Linked DNA regions of Homo sapiens. The protein of the gene in region 1 purifies or fractionates together with the protein of each later gene. This does not show direct contact. Each region holds a gene or a part of one and is shown in the gene's direction. Other genes may lie near its edges.

Region 1 (3,093 bases):
TGAGTGCTAAAGTAAGCTTTTTAGGGCCCTTTGCCAATAGGTAGTCATTCAATCTGGTATTGATCTTTTCACAAATAACAGAACTGAGAAACTTTTATATATAACTGATGATCACATAAAACAGATTTGCATAAAATTACCATGATTGCTTTATGTTTATATTTAACTTGTATTTTTGTACAAACAAGATTGTGTAAGATATATTTGAAGTTTCAGTGATTTAACAGTCTTTCCAACTTTTCATGATTTTTATGAGCACAGACTTTCAAGAAAATACTTGAAAATAAATTACATTGCCTTTTGTCCATTAATCAGCAAATAAAACATGGCCTTAACAAAGTTGTTTGTGTTATTGTACAATTTGAAAATTATGTCGGGACATACCCTATAGAATTACTAACCTTACTGCCCCTTGTAGAATATGTATTAATCATTCTACATTAAAGAAAATAATGGTTCTTACTGGAATGTCTAGGCACTGTACAGTTATTATATATCTTGGTTGTTGTATTGTACCAGTGAAATGCCAAATTTGAAAGGCCTGTACTGCAATTTTATATGTCAGAGATTGCCTGTGGCTCTAATATGCACCTCAAGATTTTAAGGAGATAATGTTTTTAGAGAGAATTTCTGCTTCCACTATAGAATATATACATAAATGTAAAATACTTACAAAAGTGGAAGTAGTGTATTTTAAAGTAATTACACTTCTGAATTTATTTTTCATATTCTATAGTTGGTATGACTTAAATGAATTACTGGAGTGGGTAGTGAGTGTACTTAAATGTTTCAATTCTGTTATATTTTTTATTAAGTTTTTAAAAAATTAAATTGGATATTAAATTGTATGGACATCATTTATTAATTTTAAACTGAATGCCCTCAATAAGTAATACTGAAGCACATTCTTAAATGAAGATAAATTATCTCCAATGAAAAGCATGACATGTGTTTCAATAGAAGAATCTTAAGTTGGCTAAATTCAAAGTGCTTGACATCAAAATGTTCTAGAGTGATTAGCTACTAGATTCTGAATCATACATCACATCTGACTAGAGACCAGTTTCTTTCGAATGATTCTTTTATGTATGTAGATCTGTTCTTCTGAGGCAGCGGTTGGCCAACTATAGCCCAAAGGCCAAATTTGGACTTCTTTTTATAAATGCAGATTGTCTATGGCTGCTTTCCCACTACTCCAGCCTAAGGTAAACAGCTGCAATAGAAGCCAAATGAGAATCGCAAAGCCCAAAATGTTTATTAACCTGCCCTTTACACAAAATTACACAAAAAGTTTCCTGATCTCTGTTCTAAGAAAAGGAGTGTGCCTTGCATTTAAAAGGAAATGTTGGTTTCTAGGGAAGGGAGGAGGCTAAATAATTGATACGGAATTTTCCTCTTTTGTCTTCTTTTTTCTCACTTAAGAATCCGATACTGGAAGACTGATTTAGAAAAGTTTTTAACATGACATTAAATGTGAAATTTTAAAAATTGAAAAGCCATAAATCATCTGTTTTAAATAGTTACATGAGAAAATGATCACTAGAATAACCTAATTAGAAGTGTTATCTTCATTAAATGTTTTTTGTAAGTGGTATTAGAAAGAATATGTTTTTCAGATGGTTCTTTAAACATGTAGTGAGAACAATAAGCATTATTCACTTTTAGTAAGTCTTCTGTAATCCATGATATAAAATAATTTTAAAATGATTTTTTAATGTATTTGAGTAAAGATGAGTAGTATTAAGAAAAACACACATTTCTTCACAAAATGTGCTAAGGGGCGTGTAAAGAATCAAAAGAAACTATTACCAATAATAGTTTTGATAATCACCCATAATTTTGTGTTTAAACATTGAAATTATAGTACAGACAGTATTCTCTGTGTTCTGTGAATTTCAGCAGCTTCAGAATAGAGTTTAATTTAGAAATTTGCAGTGAAAAAAGCTATCTCTTTGTTCACAACCATAAATCAGGAGATGGAGATTAATTCTATTGGCTCTTAGTCACTTGGAACTGATTAATTCTGACTTTCTGTCACTAAGCACTTGGTATTTGGCCATCTCCATTCTGAGCACCAAACGGTTAACACGAATGTCCACTAGAACTCTGCTGTGTGTCACCCTTAAATCAGTCTAAATCTTCCAGACAAAAGCAAATGGCATTTATGGATTTAAGTCATTAGATTTTCAACTGACATTAATTAATCCCTCTTGATTGATTATATCATCAAGTATTTATATCTTAAATAGGAGGTAGGATTTCTGTGTTAAGACTCTTATTTGTACCCTATAATTAAAGTAAAATGTTTTTTATGAGTATCCCTTGTTTTCCCTTCTTAAATTGTTATCAAACAATTTTTATAATGAAATCTATCTTGGAAAATTAGAAAGAAAAATGGCAAGGTATTTATTGTTCTGTTTGCCATAATTTAGAACTCACACTTAAGTATTTTGTAGTTTTACATTCCTTTTTAACCCATTCAGTGGAGAATGTCAGCTTTTCTCCCAAGTTGTATGTTAAGTCTATTCTAATATGTACTCAACATCAAGTTATAAACATGTAATAAACATGGAAATAAAGTTTAGCTCTATTAGTGAAGTGTTAAATTTGTGTGCTTCAAGTAATGCCATTTTCAGGCCTACCTGTTTTAAGTATTCCTCCAGTTCAAAGAATTAGAAGATGAGAGAAGGGCAAGTGTCAGAGTTGACTCCTTTTCTGCTTTGTGCAACTGTATAGATGACAGTGCCTTTTACTAAGGAAGAACACTGGAGGGACATCAGATTTGAGAGGAAAGAGCACGATTCCCGTGTTAAGGCTTGAGACGCCTTTGACATATCTAAATGTAGGTATTAAGTAGGCAGTTGATGATACAGGTTTGTGGACAGAAGGGCCTCAAGGTATGACTGATGTATACCTTGGAAGGTATACATCTTTGGAAGCACACAGTAAAGGATACTCTTCTAGGGATAGTATAGAGCAGGAGTTGGCAAACCCCACGCCATGAGCCAAATCCAGCCCACCATCTGTTTTTGTAAATAACTGTATTGGAACATAGCCACACCCATTTATTTAGTTACTGCCTTTGGCTGTTTT
Region 2 (3,500 bases), on another chromosome or scaffold:
ATGCTGCTTGGGGGTAAGGTGAAAGTGAGTCTTCGGGTTTGATTTCAGGGTGCTTACCTTTTGCACTGACTCAGATTCACAAGGTCAGGAAATAACTGCCCTGCAGGAGCTGCCTTCGGAGCTGCCATCACCAGGCTGAATTCTTTGTCAAGCAAGGGGACCATGAGGAGCTCAGTCGGAGCAAACCCAGGATGTGTTGACTTGCAGGGCGGACCTAAGTGGGGCCTCAGACCTTTCTTGCAAAATCTTTTACTAAGAAATAAATGCAACATAGTTTTTCTTTAATTCAGCAGTTATAGCTCTGTTCACATTATGTGTTTTTCTTCCTCAAAAAAATGCTACAATTTTTTTTCCAATAAAGGCCTCAACAAAAATTACATTGAATATAAATTTTCAAATAGCTTTTTATACTAGGAAGCCAAGGTAGGAAAGATAGTCTCATTGTATGATAAAAATAAAAACTTCCAAATATTCTTGTATTTATTGCCTGACTTTAGACCCTAGAAAGGAAAAAAAAAAACAAAAACAGAGCTTTGATCCTACATAGACTACTTAAACACTTAAGAAAAATAAGCCTTCCTCCTGCTTGTGAGCACACACACAGGATGGCCACACGTTGCTTGTTGTCAGTAGCTTGAGGGAGTCTCTTCATTGGCCTGTGGAACCCACTCCTAGTGGCAGCTGGAAAAGTGCATGGATTCCTTCTCTTTGTTGAGACTTCCCTCCCAGTTGGAACTGCAGTGTCTTTTTCTCCCTATTACTGTTAGGTGGAATGATTCTTTCTCTTAGCAAAGTGGTCTTGCCCCTGGCACCCCTCTTTAAGACCTAAGAATGTTTTTCCCTAGGTATGAGAAAAGGTTTTCTGTAAAATCTTCAGAAGAAGACACAAAGATGGGATTTGAGCCTTAGTTGGAATCCCCTGAGAGCCAATGGGGAGGCTAATGTAGACAGATGAGCAGCTTTTAGATCCATGCATCCTGGGACTTGCTCCAGAGGCTGTGTCTGAGCATGTCTTTCTCCCATTGGGAACCTGGGAGAGATTGCCCATTAACTGCCACATAGCCAGGATGCTTCCTAAGAGAGAGAACTGTTAGTTACTCACATATTTTTCTGCTTGTGTGGCCAGTGGTGTTTGCTCCAAATATACCATTGTACCTGTTAGTTACTGGAATGGAAATCATCTGCTTTCAGTAATGTCAGTCCTATTGTTCCTATGATTTATCAAGCAACATGACTTGGGGGGCTTTTTTCTTTCTTAACTTTTATTTTGCGTTCAGGGGTACACGTGCAGGATGTGCAGGTTTGTTACACAGGCGAAGGTGTGTCGTGGGGGTTTAGGGCTTTACGTTTTTATTCAAGAAAACATGAAAGGATGCTCCTGGCTCTGTTTCAGGAGGTGATGCAGGATTACCGAGATGAGCTCAAGGACTTCTTTGCAGTTGACAAACAGCTGGCATCAGAGCTTGAGTATGACATGAAGAAGTACCAGGAACAGCTGGTCCAGGAGCAGGAGCTAGCAAAACATGCAGATGTGGCCGGGACGGCTGGAGGTGCTGAGGTGGCACCTGTGGCACAGGTAGGTGTGGGGCCCACTGCACTGTGACCAGACAGTCCAGTCTGCTGTCTGCTACCAGTCTGTCGTTTGTCTGGCACCTCTCAAGATCTCCGTCATCAGAGGTTAGTCAGCCCGAAGGCCTCGAGAGTGCTGCTTGTTGGCCACTCCCTCGTGCCTTTCTGTCTGTGATGGATTTACTGTGCTCCAGACCTCCCTTCCATGAGGACGTGGTGCAGGAAGCGAGCTGGCAGCAGCAGTAGCTGGTGACTATAGATCCTAGGTCTGCCAGGGTGTGTCAGTGTGTCCGCATCTTCCCCCAGCACTCCCTCTTTAGAGCAGACCGGCACACGGCCATTTCTAGGAGTAGCTGTTGCTCACCGTCCTGAGGAATGCAGGCAGATCTCTTGTAGGAAAGACCAATGAGCACAAAGTAGCATACTCCTTTTTCTCTTCTGTCATGCCACAGCATCTACAAGTGGCAGCTTTCTCATAGTATTCTGTTTCTGAAAAGGAAATTCAACTTACCCAGGGTTGATATGGCTTCAAAGTACATTACTTATGGACTTGCTCATAGTACGTGAAGATTCTATTCCAATAAAGTGTTAAAATGGAGAAAGGGAATGGCTTGTACACTGTTGGTAGGGATGGAAAGTAGAACAGCCACTATGGAGAACAGTATAGAGGTTCCAAAAAACTAAAAGTAGAGGTACCATATGAGGCAGCAGCCTCGCTGCTGACTGTATAGTCAAAAGAAAGGAAATCAGGATGTCGAAGACATACCTGCACTCCCATGTTTATTGCAGCACTGTTCACAATAGCAAAATTTGGAAACAAATGTCCATCAGTGGATGAATGGTAAAGAAAATGGGGTGCATATACAGTGGAGTACTTTTCATCTATAAAAAGTGAAATCTTGTCATCTGTTGCAACATGGATGAACTTGGAAGACATTATATTAAGTGAAATAAGCCAAACACAGAAAGACAAAGATTGTATGTTCTCATTCATATATGTGAGCCAAAAAGGTTGATCTCACGGAGTTAGAGAGTGGATTTTTGGTGATTACCAGAGGCTGGGAAGGGGTGGGAGAAGGGGGATGAAGAGAAGTTGGTTAATGGGTACCAAAATACAGTTAGATAGAAGAAATAAGTTCTAGTATTCAGTACAGTGGAGATATTACAGTTTAACAATTTACTGTATATTTCAAAGTACATAGAAGAATTGGAATGTTCCCAACACAAAGAAAAGATACTCACGTTTGAGGTGATGGAGATGCCAATTACCCTGATTTGATCATTACGTTGTCCACATGTATCAAAATCTCATATGGACCCCCAACCATGTACAACTATCATATATCCGTTTTTGAAAACTTAAAAAGTATTAGAATGTACATACTCTTTATCTTCTCTACCAGGTTGCCCTGTGTTTAGAAACAGTGCCAGTTCCTGCTGGCCAAGAAAACCCTGCCATGTCACCTGCCGTGAGCCAGCCCTGCACACCCAGGGCAAGTGCTGGCCATGTAGCAGTATCATCTCCTACACCTGAAACAGGGCCATTGCAGAGGTTGCTGCCCAAAGCCAGGTAAAGAGCCCCTGGAGGCCACATCAGGGCTGGTTCTCTGTGGCGATGTTCTCAGAGGCGTCCCTGCCATTCCCAAGCGTGGGCAGGAAAGTCATTGTCATTGTCTGGCCTGCCACCCCGCTCCACACTGTGCCCTGGGAGGTTTGAATGAGGGTGGTGAGGGATGCGCCGGTGAGGAGGCACGCGGGGACACAGTGCAGCACTGTCACCTCTGCAGTGGTCTGCAGTGAGAAAGTCAGCGGCTGTGGCTGTTCTCCACAGGCCCATGTCCCTGAGCACCATTGCAATCCTGAATTCTGTCAAGAAAGCCGTGGAGTCAAAGAGCAGGCATCGGAGTCGGAGCTTAGGAGTGCTGCCTTTC
Region 3 (3,500 bases), on another chromosome or scaffold:
ACCTGTCCCAGATGTCGCTCAGCTCTGAATTTGGGGAGTGCTGCTTTCTCACTTGGCCCTGTCCACGTGGCTTCTCTGAAACATACCCTTCAAGGTTGGGGTGGCTGTGGAATGTTTCCCAGAAGACATGTTCCTATACAAAGACAGAACAGGTCACATTTCATAAATCTCACATATGAGAGGCCCATGTTTTTGTCCTAGGACATCGTAAGTTTTGAATCCCAAGGGTGTTTTGGAGCTGTGGGCTGTGCCCTTCCAGTCCCCCACAGCAGTGCTGTTGCCCAAGAATCTCCTAGCGAGAGACCAGGGGCTACTGCCAGGTGACAGAAAAGGGAACATCAGTTCCGCTATACCCACAGCTCACCTGGCGGCCTGGGGCCTGCACAGGGCCTGGTTGAGGCAGTGGACCCCATTTTTGGGCCGTCTGTGGAGTTGATGTTCCTGCCAGCTGGTCCCTCTCTGTCTTCCCTGGAACTTCACCTGCAGTTTGATGCCTGAGTTAAAATTGTTCTTCTAAATAATTCACTGTAGACTTTCTGTTTTTAGCTATGTGAAAACTTCTGAGAAACTTGGAGAGTGGAATGAGAAAGTGACCCAGTCAGACCTGTGAGTGCCTGTATCATCAGCACCTCCTCCTTCCTCCTCTCCGCCTCCTGACACTCAGTCGGGGAAGGGGGCTGTGCACACTTGGCACAAAGCTTGTTTTGGTATTTGCTGGCTATTTTTTCTTCCTATAACTTTTCTTCTCTCAGGTAAACTATCCTTTAAACTTTTGTGGAACAGGGAATAGTAGCTGAGAGAAACTCACTCAGCCACCTGACCACACTTAAAACTCCCCTCTGCCTGATATGCGTCCCTTATGTAAGAGGCCTGCACTGGTCCTGGCTGTATCTCTAACTAATAGAGCTCCTTGGCTTCCGGCAGTGCACAAGCTGGACAACACCACTTGGCCTGGGTTTGTTGGTGGCGAATTTTTGTTTGTTCTAACCCTAACCCTTTTCCCTGCTTAGCTCCAGCTGTTGGGTTCTCAGAATTCCTTTCCTCCTTTAGGGGTAGTTCTTGAGTGGAGGGCATGGTGTAGGATATGCTGGTGGAAATTTGAAATCCTCACGATCTGGGAGGCACTGCATTGTCAGAGCATCAGCCAGTGTGGATCAAGTGTGGATAGTTTTGTATGTGTGTGTCAGTGGTGTTGTTCAGAGTGACTCCTAATATTTGGAGATCCTTAAACTAGATAATAGCACTTCATTTACTTGTGCTCTGATCTGATTATAACGTCTTTAAACTGAGGAGGGGAATATTTTTAAATAGTCTCTGTGGGATTTTTTCATCTGTTATTTAGAAGGAAGCGCTGTAATCGTTGCCACAGAACATGGGCAGAAAGTCCTCCCATGTTGGTCTGAAAGGAAGCAGTTGCTGCCGAGCTTGTCTTGAAGGTCCTGGGGGACCAGGCTGGCACTGCGTGCACATGGAGCCTTTGCGTCTGGTGTCACGGTGGGAGGCTGGTGTCAGGAACCCCGGGCGGTTCTCGGCATGTTGCCCCGGGTATTCCAGGGACCCGGGTGGTTCGTGGGCATGGCTACAGCAGCCAGCTGTACATCTGGGTGCTCTGGGGACCCGGGCGGTTCACGGCATGTTGCCCTGGGTATTCCAGGGACCCGGGCGGTTTGTGGGCATGGCTACAGCAGCCAGCTGTACATCTGGGTGCTCTGGGGACCCGGGTGGTTCATGGCATGTTGCCCTGGGTTTTTTTTGTTTGTTTGGTTTTTTTTTTGAGACAACGTCTCGTTCTGTCTCCCAGGCTGGAGTGCAGTGGCGCCATCTGGGCTCACTGCAAGCTCCGCCTCCCGGGTTCACACCATTCTCCTGCCTCAGCCTCCCCAGTAGCTGGGACTACAGGCGCCCGCCACCACGCCCGGCTAATTTTTTCTATTTTTAGTAGAGACAGGATTTCACCATGTCAGCCAGGATGGTCTCAATCTCCTGACCTCGTGATCCGCCTGCCTCAGCCTCCCAAAGTGCTGGGACTACAGGCGCCCACCACCACGCCCGGCTAATTTTTTGTATTTTTAGTAGAGACAGGGTTTCATGGTGTTAGCCAGGATGGTTTCGATCTCCTGACCTCGTGATCCGCCCATCTCGGCCTCCCAAAGTGCTGGGATGACAGGCGTGACCCACTGCACCCGGCTTGAGCAGGGTGTTCTAGGGACCCTGGTGGGCTGTGTCTCGGGCTGTTGAACAGTGACTTTGCTGGGCAGCAGATGGTTCCTAGGTTGGGACAGTGACGGTCATCCTTGCAGTTTGGGCATCAGGCGGACGCACAGTGCAGACTCAGTCTGAAAATAGTCTTAGGAGACTTCAGTGCTGTTTTGTAAAACCAACTGACATAAAGCTGCCGGGATCCTATTTCAAATAAATAGTGTTTTAGAGAGCTTATTACAACACTCAGCGTCCCGACCCCTCTGGAGAAACCTGTGGCTCAGCATGGAAGCATATGGCCAGTGCATCACCTGGCCGAGGCCATTCCCCTGAGTTCTGTGGCGAGAGCTGTCAACTGACGGTTCCAGAGTGGAAGCGTTTCTGCCGGGAAGGCCCAGGCCGAGGGCGATGGTTTCTGCCGGGACGGCCCAGGCCGAGGGCGATGGTTTCTGGTGGGAAGGCCCAGGCCGAGGGCGATGGTTTCTGCCGGGACGGCCGAGGCCGAGGGCGGTGGTTTCTGCCGGGACGGCCCAGACGGAAGGGATGCGGCTTGGGAGGTGGGGCCTGAGGATGTGGCCATGGCGCGTGCTCTTCCTGGCTGGTGCCTCTCCTAGTCAGCTTCAGGAGATGGGCTGTAGATGTACCTCCACTGCCCAGAGCTCTGCAGGGGAAGGCAGTAAAAGCTCCCTGCATCCTGACCCACGTGTTTGTAGATCCTTTCAGCTATTGGCGCCCTGGAGGATGGACGGGAAGGAGAACGTGGCCGGTGGGTGGAGGATAGCACTGGTGCCTGGCCCCATGAGGCTGCAATGCGGCCACATTCTCAGTGGGTCATGTCTGAATGCGAGAGCAGCTGTGTTCTGCGAGTGGTGAAACAATTGCCTGTTGCATTCTATTTATAGGCAGAGGTAACTAAAAACCTCAGTGCTGAGAGGGGCATCATATAGATCCTGCAGTTATGAGCTGGTTCACTTGGAGTTGTTTTGGTTGCAGGTGACAGAAAGCACGACTCAAGGTAGCATCAACCAAACAGGGAGGTGGGAGCACTCACCAGGCAGAGAAGTCCCTGCCCCCACTGCTGCAGCCCAACAGTGTGGCCCCATATGGGTCTCCCTGGACTAATGGCTGCGGCCTTGGAGGTGGTGTGCTCTGGCCAGGCCTGGATCACTTGTCCATCCTGAGTGGGAGTGGGGGCAGCCCCCAGAGACAGACTCAGGAGAGGGGGAGTGCAAGGATGTCCCCCAGATGCCCTGTGCTGCCCAGGGGACAGCTCACTGGCAGTGGGACGAAACCGCTGTCTG
Region 4 (3,500 bases), on another chromosome or scaffold:
TTCAAGATGCTGGTTTTGCCAAAAGCTCAAGCCTGCTCATGATGGCTCAGTGGTGACTGCAGGGTGGAGGAGAGGCATGTGACTGTCCCAGCTGACCTCCACACGCTGAAAGCCTCATGGTCACGTGCAGCCCACCTTACAACGTTGTATCTGGGCCACGGGTGGTGGTGAGGACTGTGGATATATTTAGGGCAATGTGAGATCATTGTCAACATTCCCTTTAAGGTTGCTTTAACCTTAAAGCAGCCAGCTTGATGCTTGCTGACTTGGGGCACACATCTTAACCTCTTGATGCCTCAGTTTCCCCGTCTGTTAAATGGTGACATGCTGGCACCTCCCTCCTAGGGTTTCTGTGAGGCTTAAAGGAAGTACCGGGTTTAGAGTCCAGTTAGTGCCACAGATACTGTTCCTGGTGCTGTTTTTGTGGTGTGTCTGTGTAGGGTTACATTGTTGCCTTCCTGTGGCTGCTCTTCCTGGTGGGCGGAACCTGGAACTTCTAGAACAGATCATGGATGTTTCTCTGCTGGATACCCCTTCAGCCTCACCCTGTGGGAGTTGTGGCGGGGCCCAGGAGAGTTTGCTCAAGAGGGTGTGCAGGTGGGTGGCAGAGCTGGAGCAAGGCACTAGTCTTAACAGACAGGAGTCTGAGGCTGGCAGAAGTGGGGGCCTTGGTCCAAGGTGCGGGGCTAATCTGGCCAGAGCTGAGCCTGGCAGGGCCTTGGTAAGACCCTGTGGCCCTTTTGTCTTGGTGAAGCACCTTCCTGCCTGGGTTTCCATTTGCCTGTAAGTTTGTTGTGGACAGCGTGATCTCCATAGACGTACACTGTGCCTACTTTACAGATGGAGAAACCAAGGCCCAGAGAGGAAGTGACTTGCTCAGAGTCATGGAATAGGAAAGTGGCAGGGTCCCCATGCCCTGATTCCTAGGCCAGCGTTCCTGCTGCCCCACTGAGGTTTTTGGGAATCACAGGCTCTGTGTGTCCCCCTCAGTCCCCCAGGGGCTGTTGAACAGTTCTCAAGTGGTGTCGGATTACTGAAGATGCCTCTGCCCACTGCCCTCCCAGGTCCCAGGGTCACGGGTCACGTTCTTTTCTTCCTCGGGCAGATCCTGGCCTTGGCTTTGCCTGGCACCTGTGATCCAGCTCTCCTCTGACTCTCCTGGGTCTGCTGGACTGGAAGGGTATTTGTGTAGCCCCTCTTGGGCCCTCATTACTCATTGACAGACAGTGCTGGTGGAGAGAAGGGCCCCAGTGGTGACGCACTGGGCCTGATAATCAGAAACCTTGGTGGCATTTGCTGAGCATTTTCCATGTGTCCCTCTCCTCGCTGGGACTCTAGGACTGAAACCCAGGCCACATCCTCACAGATGTCCTGGCATCTCCAAGGCAACCCTGAAAGGAAAGTATGTTGATGAATTAAGCAACTGTTTGCTTAATTCTCCATGCCATTCTTGAATTTAAGCCCCACTGCTGATCATTGGGAGCAGGAGTTAGCATGCCCATTGACAGACAAGCAAACTGAGGCAAAGAGGTTAGATAGCCAGGCATGGTGGCATATGCCTGTAATCTCAGCTACTCAGGAGGCCGGAGTAGGAGGATCACTTGAACCCAGGAGTTTGAGACCAGTCTGGGCAACATAGCAAGACCCTGTCTCTCTAAAAAACAAGATGAATAATACATTTTTAAAAAGAGATTCGATAAATTATGCAGGATCACAGAGCTAATAAATGGTGACACCATGGCCTGCAAGCCTTCCCCCAGCTCCTGGCTACCTTTCGCTTCTCTGGCATTGGTCTTCTCGGAATTCCTCCCAGGCAGGTGGATGGGAAAAGAAGTGAAGATACAGGCTGGCAGCTGGTGCTGTGACCTGGAGCCCTGTTTTTGGTGCTAAGCTGGGTTTTAGCTGAAGGAGACCTGCTGGAGGGGTTTCTTCTGTGCTTCTTGGGGAGCAAAGATGGCCTTGGAGATGGAGACACGGTTTGTCAGTCCCAAGCCACTCCAAAGGTGGGGCTGGTGGGCTAGGAGTCAGCCCTGGTTCCCCCGCCATGCTGTGTGTGGCCCTGCCTTGCCACCCCACCTGCTGGAGGACCTCTTTGATGCTTTCTAGTGGGTCCCAACATTCTGTGATTAGGACTTTGCATGAGGCAGAGGGAGGGCAGGAGCTGGAGTCCAGCAAGGACCTCAAGCCCAGGGACAGGCTCCACCTGCCACACTTGCTAAGCCGTGAGGGCCTCAGGTGCCCGGGAGGAGGGAGCAGGAGTGGAAGCACCAGCTCGAGCCGCCAAACCAGGTCACGTATCACCTGCCATTTCCTGCTGGCAGAAGGAGATCACAGACACCAGAAGACAGCAGCTTCTGCCAGAACTGGGTCCTTCCATGATTCTCAGGTGGTGACTTTGAATCCCAGAAAAAGTGTTTTGGGGAGAGTGGAGTGAAGGAAGAGTGTGAACATTGGATCTGACTCCACTCCAGCCCCTGTGCTGCAGCCAGCAGGGTGAGCTCAGGACAGCTGGCAGCCGCTTGGGCCCAGCCCCCTCCTCCGTGAATGAAGGTGGTGGGGAGTGCACGTGTGCGTGTGAGTGCGTGTGAGTATAAATGACTGTGGATGTGAGAGTCCATGAAAGTGAGAATGTATCAGTGTGTAAGAAAGTGTGAGTATGTGAGAATGAGTGTGTTTGTGAGAATGTATGTATGTGTGAGTATAAGTGTGTGAATGTGAGAATGTCTGAGTGTGAGAATGAAAGTTTGCAAGTGTGTCAGTGTGAGGGAATGTGTGAGTGCATTTGAGAGTGTGTGTGTGTGTGTGTGCGTGTGTGCACGCATGCACTAGATTAAATAAGAATGCATCCAACTGACATTTTCTGGATACTGTTACCTACTAGGAATTACTAAAATCAGCTATTCCAGAGGAGGGTGGATGTCGCACCAGGGGACATTTGGCAACGTTTGCAGATTCTTTTGCTGGTCGCAGCGTGGGGTGTATGCTGTGGGCATGTGGTGGGCAGAGGCCAGGGATGCTGCTGAGCCTCCTCCCGTGCTCAGGGCAGCCCCTAAGGCAGAGGCTGCTTGTGGGGCCCAAATGTCAGCAGTGCTGAGCTGAGGATCTCTGTCCAGGAGGCACAGACGCTGTCCTGGATGCTGTCCAGACAGCATCTGCTCTGCCCTCCAGGGGGACAGACAGACAGTGGACACAGCCCAGATGCAGCCTGATGAGTGAGCCCAAGGGAGTGCCTGTCCCCTCGGGACTGTGAGCTCCGTGGGGGCAGGAACTGGGTCTGTTTGCTCATGATCCCCAGATGAGTCCCATAGCCAGTCTCATCACCATAGCTGGTGTTATTTTTGTTCTGAGCTCTGTGTTGGGCACATAGAACCTAGTGGGTAGAAACCTCTGAATAAATCCTGAGTTTTCCATCCTGCTTCCGTGAACTCAGATGTTCTTTGAGGGCCAGCCTGGTGGCGTGGGGGCTGGGAGTGGGCAGATTGTAGGGAGCCAAGTCCTGG

The links. The genes of interacting proteins can lie anywhere in the genome.
Region 2: the proteins of NAMPT (region 1) and NCAPD3 purify together in Homo sapiens (co-immunoprecipitation; one large-scale study listed by IntAct). This does not show direct contact.
Region 3: the proteins of NAMPT (region 1) and TPD52L2 fractionate together in Homo sapiens (co-fractionation; one large-scale study listed by BioGRID). This does not show direct contact.
Region 4: the proteins of NAMPT (region 1) and NDRG1 fractionate together in Homo sapiens (co-fractionation; one large-scale study listed by BioGRID). This does not show direct contact.

What each region holds. Positions count from the first base shown.
Region 1 is NC_000007.14:106,247,798-106,250,890, reverse strand, and holds the end of NAMPT (nicotinamide phosphoribosyltransferase precursor), read left to right. Parts: 3' UTR 1-2,593; downstream 2,594-3,093.
Region 2 is NC_000011.10:134,157,968-134,161,467, reverse strand, and holds part of NCAPD3 (condensin-2 complex subunit D3), read left to right. Parts: intron 1-1,393; coding exon 1,394-1,576; intron 1,577-2,972; coding exon 2,973-3,139; intron 3,140-3,400; coding exon 3,401-3,500.
Region 3 is NC_000020.11:63,875,270-63,878,769, forward strand, and holds part of TPD52L2 (tumor protein D54), read left to right. Parts: intron 1-546; coding exon 547-606; intron 607-3,500.
Region 4 is NC_000008.11:133,287,253-133,290,752, reverse strand, and holds part of NDRG1 (protein NDRG1), read left to right. Parts: intron 1-3,500. UniProt on the Homo sapiens protein: Stress-responsive protein involved in hormone responses, cell growth, and differentiation. Acts as a tumor suppressor in many cell types. Necessary but not sufficient for p53/TP53-mediated caspase activation and apoptosis.